3 linked regions of the Homo sapiens genome follow. The protein of the gene in region 2 purifies or fractionates together with the protein of the main gene of each other region. This does not show direct contact. Each region holds a gene or a part of one and is shown on either strand. Other genes may lie near its edges. The genes, in order: SPG7, MSH5 and GLG1.

Evidence for each region.
Region 1: the proteins of MSH5 (region 2) and SPG7 purify together in Homo sapiens (affinity purification with mass spectrometry; one large-scale study listed by BioGRID and IntAct). This does not show direct contact.
Region 3: the proteins of MSH5 (region 2) and GLG1 purify together in Homo sapiens (affinity purification with mass spectrometry; one large-scale study listed by BioGRID and IntAct). This does not show direct contact.

What each region holds. Positions count from the first base shown.
Region 1 is NC_000016.10:89,546,286-89,549,936, forward strand, and holds part of SPG7 (mitochondrial inner membrane m-AAA protease component paraplegin isoform 1 precursor), read left to right. Parts: intron 1-372; coding exon 373-475; intron 476-1,717; coding exon 1,718-1,828; intron 1,829-2,409; coding exon of another isoform or gene 2,410-2,432; exon of another isoform or gene 2,433-2,497; intron 2,498-3,651. UniProt on the Homo sapiens protein: Catalytic component of the m-AAA protease, a protease that plays a key role in proteostasis of inner mitochondrial membrane proteins, and which is essential for axonal and neuron development.
Region 2 is NC_000006.12:31,749,912-31,753,562, forward strand, and holds part of MSH5 (mutS protein homolog 5), read left to right. Parts: intron 1-3,389; coding exon 3,390-3,528; intron 3,529-3,651.
Region 3 is NC_000016.10:74,596,991-74,600,641, reverse strand, and holds part of GLG1 (Golgi apparatus protein 1 isoform 3 precursor), read left to right. Parts: intron 1-3,651. UniProt on the Homo sapiens protein: Binds fibroblast growth factor and E-selectin (cell-adhesion lectin on endothelial cells mediating the binding of neutrophils).

The sequences.
Region 1 (3,651 bases), on a different chromosome or scaffold from region 2:
GTGTTGGCCAGACTGCCCACTTCAGCCTCCCAAAGTGCTAGGATTACAGGTGTGAGCCACCGGGCCCGGCCATCCAACAGTGTTCTGTTCGTGTTTAAAATGCTGCTTGTGGCCAGGCATGGTGGCTCACGCCTGTAACCCCAGCACTTTGGGAGGCCGAGGCAGGTGGATCACTTGAAGCCAGGAGTTCGAGACCAGCCTAGCCAACTTTGCGAAACCCCGTCTCTACTAAAAATACAAAACTCAGGCATGATGGCACACACTTGTAATCCCAGCTACTTGGGGACCCCCCCCCCCCACAGACAAACATGCCGCACCTGTGGCAGTAACTAGGCTTGAGCCCGACTGTCTTTCCTCCCCTGGTTCTGGCAGGAGAGGCGGGAGATTTTTGAGCAGCACCTGAAGAGCCTGAAGCTGACCCAGTCCAGCACCTTTTACTCCCAGCGTCTGGCAGAGCTGACACCAGGATTCAGTGGTACGTTCTCAACCCGCAGCCTGGGCAGCGTCACGTCCTGAGGGCAGGTGGTGTCACCTGCGCAAACAGCATCGAGGCCTCCTCTGTGGGGTGGGCGCTGCTCCTTCTCTGGGGGCCTCTGCTCAGTACAAGCCTGGGAGGGAGCTGATGTGTATGTGGGGCAGCAGGAGGTCCAGACGGCACCCGCACTCCGTCCTCCGCCCCGGGGTGGAAAAGCAGACGGTGGTTCCCGGTCTGTGTTGTTTCCAGAGATAGTGGAGTTATGTTGCTTCCACACAGTGACCAGTCATGCCGGCGTTTCCCGTCAGACCCAGAGTCAGACCACGCAGTCCCGGCAAAGCCGCCTCCCTCTGACCCTCACGGTCTCTGTCAAGTTGTAGAAATAGAAATCATACCTCAAGATGCTTTTCCTGCTGTGTGGTTCACATTTTAAAAGTTAATGTCAACAAACCTCCCTTTTATTATGAGATGAATTTGCCCTTTGATTATTCGTTAGGGTCTTTCACTAGAATTTTGTGGTTACTAGAGAGCCTTTAATTTCTTTGCCATCAATGCTCATGAGCTGTTAGGTGGAATCAGCCACAAGATGGGGTGTGGAACTAACTGCCCTTGGGAGGAGAGACGGGCGTCAGGGCGGATGGAGCCTGGCGGTTCTGTGTCTCGTCTGTGGAATGGCCTCAGTGGAACACGGTGCAAGTGCCTGCCGCTCTCCCCACCCCTGCTCCTGGCGCCGGCGCCTGCCGCTCTCCCCAGCTCTGCTCCTGGCGCCAGCTCCCCGTGCCTCTCTCCCAGACGCTCTCACCAGCACTCTTGGTTCTTGGTCTCTTTTCCCTCTTTGTTCTTCCTTTTATTTATTTACTTATTTATTTTGAGACAGAGTCCTACTCTGTCGCCCAGACTGGAGTGCAGTGGCGTGATCTTGGCTCCCCGCAGCCTCCGCCTCCTGGGTTCAACCGATTTTCCTGCCTCAGCCTCCTGAGTAGCTGGGATTACAGGCGCTCACCACCACGCCCGGCTAATTTTTGTATTTTTAGTAGCAATAGGGTTTCACCCTGTTGGCCAGGCTGGTCTCAAACTCCTGACCTCAGGTGATCTGCCCACCTCAGCCTCCCAAAGTGCTGGGATTACAGGGGTGAGCCACCATGCCCGGCCATCTTTGTTCTCCCTTGAGGGCCCCTTCCTCCTCTTAAGCCCTGATAGCAGAAACCCACCCACCCACACCGTGGCTGTTTGTGTTGACAGGGGCTGACATCGCCAACATCTGCAATGAGGCTGCGCTGCACGCGGCGCGGGAGGGACACACTTCCGTGCACACTCTCAACTTCGAGTACGCCGTGGAGCGCGTCCTCGCAGGTACAGGGGGCGCGCCCTGGGTGAAGGCCCTCCTTAGCAGGGCTTGAACCCCAGAAATACCCAGGCAGGTATTGAGAGGTGAGGTGGATGGAACCATCACACAGGAAGGAACACACGTTGCGTTTCAGTTCTGCGTAACTCATGTCTTTATGATACCTTGTACTTTTCCTTAGTTTAAAATATCACAGATTTACCTAAGAGTAGACGCTCGTCCAACAGAAATAAAAAATGCCTTGCCAAAGAAAGTGAAAAAATAAAAATAAAAAATGCCCCCCAAAAATAAAAATAATAAAAACTAAAAATGTCTTGCCAGCCTGGGTGTGGTGGGCTCAGCCTAGCCCCAGCCTCATGGGGGCTGAGCTCCAGCCGCTGACTGTGGGCCGGAGGGCTGCTGCCGCCCGTGGCTGTGGAGGGACAGCCGTGCTTTCAGCGCAGCAGGGGCTCTGCGGAGAGGTGTGGATCTGCAGCACCACCTCTGGTGAAACTCATGGTCCCGACCGTCAGTAGGAACGGGAGATGAGTTTTGGTGACGGGTGACCGGTGGGCTGACCGCCTCTGACTGCCGTTCCGTGGCTGCTCAGTGTGGGGTCTGCGACGTCTGTGAGGAGAGAGGACCAAACTGGGAATCGGAGCTGCTGGAGGTTTCCATAGCTATGATGGCAACACCCAGACGTGATCAGTCATCTCATGGAATGGAGTTCAGACCCGCACTGTCAGTGTGAGACAGGTTGAACGTTTGAAAAGGGAAGTGGTTCTTGCCCCAGGTGTTTGAGGAGCACGAGCCTCCTTTGCGAGCTATCCCTGCGAGAACCGAGTTCCTCACCCTCAATTCGAGTGAATTCCTAGCACGAACACGCCTCTTGCAGGTCCCCAGGGCTTCAGCTTGGGAAAGCAGTGGGTTCCTGCAGAGGAGTGGGGCAGCTGCTGTGCCAGACACTGCAAAACACACCTGGCTTCTCTCCGACAGCCCTGCGGGTCGAGAGGACTGGCGCTGCCTGTGTCTTACTGAAATTTATTTTCGTGTAACCATTTACTTTTATGTGGAAATCGAAAAGCTTTTGATAATAGTAGCAAAGCAGGAAGGACTGAGTGGGAACCACAAGCCAGTTGAAAGAAAATACATGACGTACTTGAGTGCTCAGGACCACGAGCTGATTCAAGTTGTACAGAATGGACACTTACAGATGTGTGGAAAATCTGAGACAGGAAATGAAGCCTCACCAGTAAGCTGAACAGGGGAGATTTAATGCAAACATTTGTCCCTGGCTGGGCACTGTGGCTCATGCCTGTAATCCCAGCACTTTGGGGGCTGAGGCAGGAGGGTTGCTTGAGGCCAGGAGTTTGAGACCAGCCTGGGCAATACAGCAAGACCCCATCTCTTAAAAGAAAAGAATAAAGAGTATTAGCCAGGCATGGTGGTGGAGCACACCTCTGGTCTCAGCTACTCAGGAGGCTGCAGCAGGAGGATTGCTTGAACCTGGGAGGTTGAAGCAACAGTGAGCCGTGATCGCACCACTGCCCTCCAGCCTGGGCAACAGAGTGAGACCCTGTCACTGACAGAAAAAAAGCCTTGTCCCTGAGGCAAAAAGCTTCTGAAGGGGTGAGTAGAAGCCATAAGGATCCAGAAAGTGATGGGGATGGGAGCTGCGCCTCCAGGTCTGAGGGGAGAGGGAAAGTAAGCAGGAGGCCCGTAACTCAGAGGAGGCCTCTGCCCATCCTGCCAGGGAGAAAGTCAAAAGCTGCTGTTCTGTGACCCTTGCCCCGACCCTGTGGCACCCCCCCAACCATGGGGCAGGAGGAGACACTCCTCAGAGGGTTGCACT
Region 2 (3,651 bases):
AATATGTATCTTGTAGGAGTTAATTTAGGATAATCTCTGAGGTCATCTCCAGGTAATCAGCATCTCCAGGAATCGGCAGGGTAATTTAATTACCCACACATTCTTCAGTGCTTCAGGTGCAGATCTTTAATCTCAGCCACAGATGGGAGGGAGAGAATTCTCAGTGGAGAAGAGAGCTGGATTTAAGGTCGGGGAGGAATGCGTATTCCCCAAATGGAATCAGACAGGGCATGAGATCATATAACTTGAAGAATCATCATATAATCTAATGAACTAAGGACAGGTGACATATTTATTAATATTTCTGTATACGAATTTATTTTAATTTATTAGGAAATACCTCTAACGTACAAAAAGATGTAAATAATAATATAGGGCCAGATGTGGTGGCTCACGCCTATAATCCCAGCATTTGGGAGGCTGAGGCAGGAGGATTGCTTGAGGCCAGGAGTTCAAGAACTAAAAGCTGTACAGGCACCAAGAATATGACTGAATGTCACAGTATGCTCTAAAGGGCACTGTCCTAGGAGTCTGGAGACATGATTTTGAGACTTAGCTGTTCTCATTGGCGGTATGACTTTGGGCAAGTTGCTTATCTTTTAACGGTTTCATTTTCTCAGTTGTTAAATTTACAGTTTGGTTTAACTAAAGTCTCTCCCAGTACGAGCAGGGCGTGAGTCAGAGATACCTAAGTGTTTAGTGCAGCGCATGTGCTTTCTAAAGTGGGGATGGCTATTTACAGACTGGCCTACACTGTTCTGGTGGGAGCCCTCAGTGACCAAGGAGCAGAGGTACCTGAAACCCACCCTTGAAGCCATCTGGATGCTCCGCTTCATTCAAATCTGGGGTGTTCTAACCCAAAGTAACTGGCCACAGACTGCAATGTAAGATACAAATCTTCAGGACCTAGTGTGTGCACATGTTGGCTCTTATATAAGATGGCATCCTTAGTACTTGTTCTATGTAGAAAAGAATTTGTGGGCTCACAAGTCCCTACAGAGTCTCACACTCTCATGGCCAATAAGTATACAGGGATACCCGGAATTAGACAAACACAGATGAGACATTTATTTCTGTATATGAATTTATTTTATTTATTTATTTATTTTTTGAGACAGAGTCTCACTCTGTCACCCATCCTGGAGTGCAGTGGCCTGGCTCATTGCAAGCTCCACCTCCCGGGTTTACACCATTCTGCCTCACCCTCCCGAGTAGCTGGGACTATAGGTGCCCGCCAACACGCCCGGCTAATTTTGTTGTGTTTTTAGTAGAGACGGGGTTTCACCGCGTTAGCCAGGATGGTCTTGATCTCCTGACCTCGTGACCCGCCCTCCTTGGCCTGCCAAAGTGCTGGGATTACAGGCGTGAGCCACCGCACCTGGCCTGAATTTATTTTCATTTATTAGGAAATACCTCCAACACACAAAAAGATGTAAATAATTAGCCGGGCGTGGTGGCTCATGACTGTAATCCCAGCACTTTGGGAGGCCGAGGCAGGTGGAACACCAGAGGTCCGGAGTTTGAGACCAGGCTGGCCAACATGGTGAAACCTCATCTCTACTAAAAATACAAAAATTAGCCGGGAGTGGTGGTGCACCCCTGTAATCCCAGCTACTCCAGAGGCTGAGACACGAGAATCGCTTGAACCTGGGAGGCGGAGGTTGCAGTGAGCTGAGATCGCACCACTGCACTCCAGCCTGGACAACAGAGCAAGACTCTGTCTCAGAAAAAAAAAAAAAGATGTAAATAATAATACTATCGGGCCAGGTGCAGTGGCTTATGCTTGTAATCCCAGCACTTTGGGAGGCCATGGCAGGAGGACTGCTTGAGGCCAGGAGCTTGAGAACAGCCTGGGCAACATAGCAAGACCTCGTCTCTATAAAAACTATTAATAGTAATACAAATGGCCAGGCGCAGTAGCTCATGCCTGTAATTCCAGCACTTTAGGAGGCTGAGGCAGGCAGATCACCTGAGGTCACGATTTTGAGACCAGCCTGGCCAACACAGCGAAACCCTATCTCTACTAAAAATACAAAATTTAGCTGGGCATGGTGGCACACACCTGTAGTTCCAGCTGCTGGGGAGGCTGAGGCAGGAGAATCACTTAAGCCTGTGAGGCAGAGGTTGCAGTGACCCGAGATCCCGCCACTGTACCCTAGCCTGGGCGACAGAGCAAGACTCCATCTCAAAAATAATAATAATAATACAAATATCTATATATCCATCAGCCAATTTAAGAATAAGACATGCCGGGCGCGGTGGCTCATGCCTGTAATCCCAGCACTTTGGGAGGCCGAGGCGGGTGGATCACAAGGTCAGGAGTTCAAGACCAGCCTGGCCAAGATGGTGAAACCCCGTCTCTACTAAAAATACAAAAATTAGCTGAGCACAGTGGCGGGTGCCTGTAATTCCAGAACCTGGGAGGTGGAGGTTGCAGTAAGCCAAGATTGTGCTACTGCACTCTAGCCTGGGCGACAGAGCAAGACTCTATATAAAAAATAAAATAAAAAAAAAGAATAAGACACTATTGGCCGGGTATGGTGACTCACGCCTGTAATCCCAGCACTTTGGGAGCCGAGGCGGGCAGATCACGAGGTCAAGAGATCGAGATCATTCTGGCCAACATAGTGAAACCCTGACTCTACTAAAAATACAACAATTAGCTGGGCATGGTGGCGCATACCTGCAGTCCCAGCTACTCGGGAGGCTGAGGCACGAAAATCACTTGAACCCGGGAGGTGGAGGTTGCAGTGAGCCGAGATCGCATCACTGCACTCCAGCCTGGCGACAAAGCGAGACTCTGTCTCAAAAAAAAAAAAAAAACGAAAGAATAAGACGTTGTTGAAGCCCCTTAAATGTCCCTCCCCAATCCTTTTTTCTCTGCAGTGTTGACCATTATTATGAATTAAAGCTTATCATCCCTAATGGGACAGTTATGTTTTCACAGGAAGAATATGAAAAGATGAATGTCTGTTGCTGTTACCCAGAGACACTTTCACAGCTAAAAAGACATACAAACTCATACTGACTCACCGTCTCTTACTCAGCCTCAGAGTGAGCTGCAGTGTTGGCACACAAATACCTCAACACACTGCTCTCCTTCTAAAATATTGACAAGCTCCGTTACTTATATACATGGAATGACACACGGTCTTATCCGTTGAAACTGTGATATGTAGACACAATTATGCTCACATCTAGCAATTTTCAGTAGATACATGTAAACACACCTGAATGGGTAGGACACTGCACTTGCCACTACATTCCCATAGCACATCGTGGATACATATTGCCACAATCCCCAGGGACTGCAAGCACACTTTTTGGCAAACTGAGATCAAGATGATAGATGTAACTTGTAGTACCCCCACCCAAACCCTCACTTCCAGGCTATGGTTCACACGTCCGACTCATGACCTGGGGGAGCTCAGTTCTCGTCTGGACGTCATTCAGTTTTTTCTGCTGCCCCAGAATCTGGACATGGCTCAGATGCTGCATCGGCTCCTGGGTCACATCAAGAACGTGCCTGTGAGCCCAGGGTGGAGGGCAGGGAGGTGGGGAAGGAGGTTGAGGGCTGATACTGGGCAGTGGGCTTCTTGAGGGGCATTAGAGTGAGGGAAGAGAAAACAGCGGCTGTAACCTTGTCTGACT
Region 3 (3,651 bases), on a different chromosome or scaffold from region 2:
TTCTGCCTCAGCCTCCCGAGTAGCTGGGACTGCAGACATGCGCTACCACACCCGGCTAATTTTTGTATTTTTAGTAAAACGGGGGTTTCGCCACACTGGCCAGGCTGGTCTTGAACCTCTGACCTCAAGTGATCTGCCTGTCTTGGCCTCCCAAAGTGCTAGGATTACAGGTGTAAACCAGTGCACCCGGCCTCTTTTCTTAAGCAAGGACTGTCTACTTTAGCTTTGTCCTTGTTCTTTTTTTTCTTTGAAAGTCTTACTCTATCTCCCAGGCTGGCTGGAGTGCAGTGGCATGATCATGGCTCACTGCAACCTCAAACTCCTGGGCTCAAGCTCTCCTCCCACTTCAGCCTCCCGAGTAGCTGGGACTATAGGTACACAACACCACTTAGCCTTGTTCTAAGCGGAAATATACGTGAACTCATGAATTTGATGTGGTAGGTATACTTCTCTAATATATATGAAACTAAATATATGACTATAAAATATAAGTACCAACACATACCACCTGAAATCATCTTGCATATTACCAATAGCACATGCTTCAGAAAGCACTAACACTGGATTATCTTTCTCTGTTGTTTTTTTGTTTTGTTTTGCTTTTGGTTAAGACGGAGTCTCGCACTGTCACCCAGGCTGGAGTGCAGTGGCGCGATCTCACCTCACTGCAACCTTTGTCTCCTGTATTCAAGCGATTCTCCTGGCTCCACCTCTCTAGTAGCAGGGATTACAGGCACCAGCCACCATGCCTGGCTAATTTTTTTTTTGTTTTTTTTTTGAGACAGAGTCTAGCTCTGTCACCCAGGCTGGAGTGCAGTGGCGCGATCTCGGCTCACTGCAAGCTCTACCTCCCGGGTTCACGCCATTCTCCTGCCTCAGCCTCCCGAGTAGCTGGGACTACAGGCGCCCACCACCATGCCCGGCTAATTTTTTGCATTTTTAGTAGAGACGGGGTTTCACCATGTTGGCCAGGATGGTCTCGATCTCCTGACCTCGTGATCTGCCCACCTCGGCCTCCGAAAGTGCTGAGATGACAGGCGTGAGCCACTGTGTCCGGCCGAGGCTTGGCTAATTTTTGTATTTTTAGTAGAGACGGGTTTTCACCATGTTGGCCAGGCTGGTCTTGAACTCCTGACCTCAGGTAATCCCACCCGCCTTGGCCTCCCAAAGTGGTGGGATTACAGGCGTGAGCCACCGCTCCTGGCCTTGGATTATCTCTTAAGATTCTTCCAGCTCCGGTGCTTTGTGATTTTGTGATCTGTGGGAATACAAAACGTGTGCAAGAGAGTCGTAGCACAGGTGGAAAGGGGAGATGCTTTGGGGAATTATTAAAGGGGCTGTATTGACCGAAATAGAGAACTTGAAAATGTTTTCAGTCCAGGTCATGAAGGGTCGTATATTCACCTCTAGCTGGTTCTCCAAGTAAAGTCCAGAAATGGGATGTTTTTATCCCTACCTCAGATAAAAATATTACAGCAGATAATTGAGAATTACCTGTAAAGTAGCATTGTCGTTTATGGCAAATACTTTTTAAGAAATCTCTTGATGAGAATGCTTTACAGTATATAGTTGCTTAATAATTCATTGTTCTGTAGAAGGAAATAAAATACTTGAACAGTCCAAAAGATGAAATGCTGTATTTCTCTTTTGTGCATTTCTCCTAATGTGTTCAAAACAAATTTACTCAGGAACAATAACAAAAATCTCCTCTTTATATAAGTTATATATATATATATTTATATATTTGTTGTTGTTGTTTTGAGGTGGAGTTTCGCTCTTGCTCAGGCTGGAGTGAAGTGGAATGATCTCGACTCACTGCAACCTCCACCTCTCGGGTTCAAGCCATTCTCCTGCCTCAGCCTCCCGAGTAGCTGGGATTATAGGCACTTGCCAGCACACCCGGCTAATTTTTGTAGAGACGAGGTTTCACCATGTTGACCAGGGTGGTCTCAAACTCCTGACCTCAGGCAATCCACCCACCTCAGTCTCCCAAAGTGTTGGGATTACAGACGTGAGCCACCGCGCCCGGCCTTATTTATATATTTTTAAAAGCAGCAGTTAAAATGGCTTATAGGCTATCATGTAAATTAATTTTTCTTCTTTCTTTTTTCTTTTTTTTTTTGAGATGGAGTCTCATTCTGTCACCAAGCTAGAGTGCAGTGGCGCGATCTCGGCTCACTGCAACCTCCACCTCCTGGGTTCAAGTGATTCTCCTTCCTCAGCCTCCCGAGTAGCTGGGACTACAGGCGCCCGCCACCACGCCCGGCTAATTTTTTGTATTTTTAGTAGAGACGGGGTTTCACCATGTTGGCCAGGATGGTCTTGATCTCTTGACCTCGTGATCCGCCCGCCTTGGCCTCCCAAAGTGCTGGGATTACAGGCGTGAGCCACCGCGCCCGACCAATTTTTCTTCTTTCAGCAAACATTTATTGAAACCTGTGTGCAAGACACTGCTCAGTGTTCAAGTATACTACTGCTACTTATAATGGTTAGCATTTACTGAGGGTTTTCTGTGTGCCCTGTTCTGAGGGACTGGATGCTTTCTAGGCGTTATCTCATTTAATCTTATGAGAGATGTTTTATTATTATCATTCTTATTGATTTTGTTTGTTTGATTTTGTTTTCGAGACAGAGTCTTGCTCTTGACGCCCAGGCTGGAGTGCAGTGGTGTGATCTCAGCTCACTGTAATCTCTGGCTCCCGGGTTCAAGCGATTCTCCTGCCTCAGCCTCATGAGTAGCTAGGACTACAGGTACACACCACCATGTCCAGCTTTTTTTTTTTTTTTTTTGAGGCAGTCTCACTTTGTCACCCAGGCTGGAGTGCAGTGGTGCGATCTCAGCTCACTGCAAGCTCCACCTCCCGGGTTCACGCCATTCTCCTGCTTCAGCCTCCCGAGTAGCTGGGACTACAGGCGCCCGCCACCATGCCCGGCTAATTTTTTGTATTTTTTAGTAGAGATGGGATTTCACTGTGTTAGTCAGGATGGTCTCAATCTCCTGACCTCGTTATCCGCCAGCTTCGGCCTCCCAAAGTGTTGGGATTACAGGCGTGAGCCACTGCGCCCGGCTAATTTTTGTTTTTTTAGTAGAGGCAGGATTTCGCCATGTTGGCTATGCTGGTCTTGAACTCCTGACCTCAGGTGATCTGCTTGCACCACCATCTATCACCGGAGCTTTTTTTTTCTTTTTTCTTTCTTTTTTTTTTTTTTTGAGATGGAGTCTCACTCTGTCATCCAGGCTGGAGGGCAGTGGCATGATGTCAGCTCACTGCAACCTCAGCCTCCCTGGTTCAAGCGATTCTCCTGCCTCAGCCTCCTGAGTAGCTGGGACTATAGGCGCACCCCACCACGCCCAGGTAATTTTTGTATTTTTACTAGAGACGGGGTTTCGCCATGTTGGACATGCTGGTCTTGATCTCTTGACCTGGTGATCCTCCCGCCTCGGCCTCCCAAAGTGCTGGGATTACAGGCGTGAGCCACTGTGCCTGGTGAGTTTTGTTTTGGGTTTTTTTTTTGTTTGTTTGAGACGAGGTCTCACTCTCTTGCCCAGGCTGCAGTGCAGTGGCATGATCATGATTCACTGCAGCCTCTGCCTCCCGAGCACGAGTGATCATCCCACCTCAGCCTCCTGAGTATCTCCTCCTTAGTAGT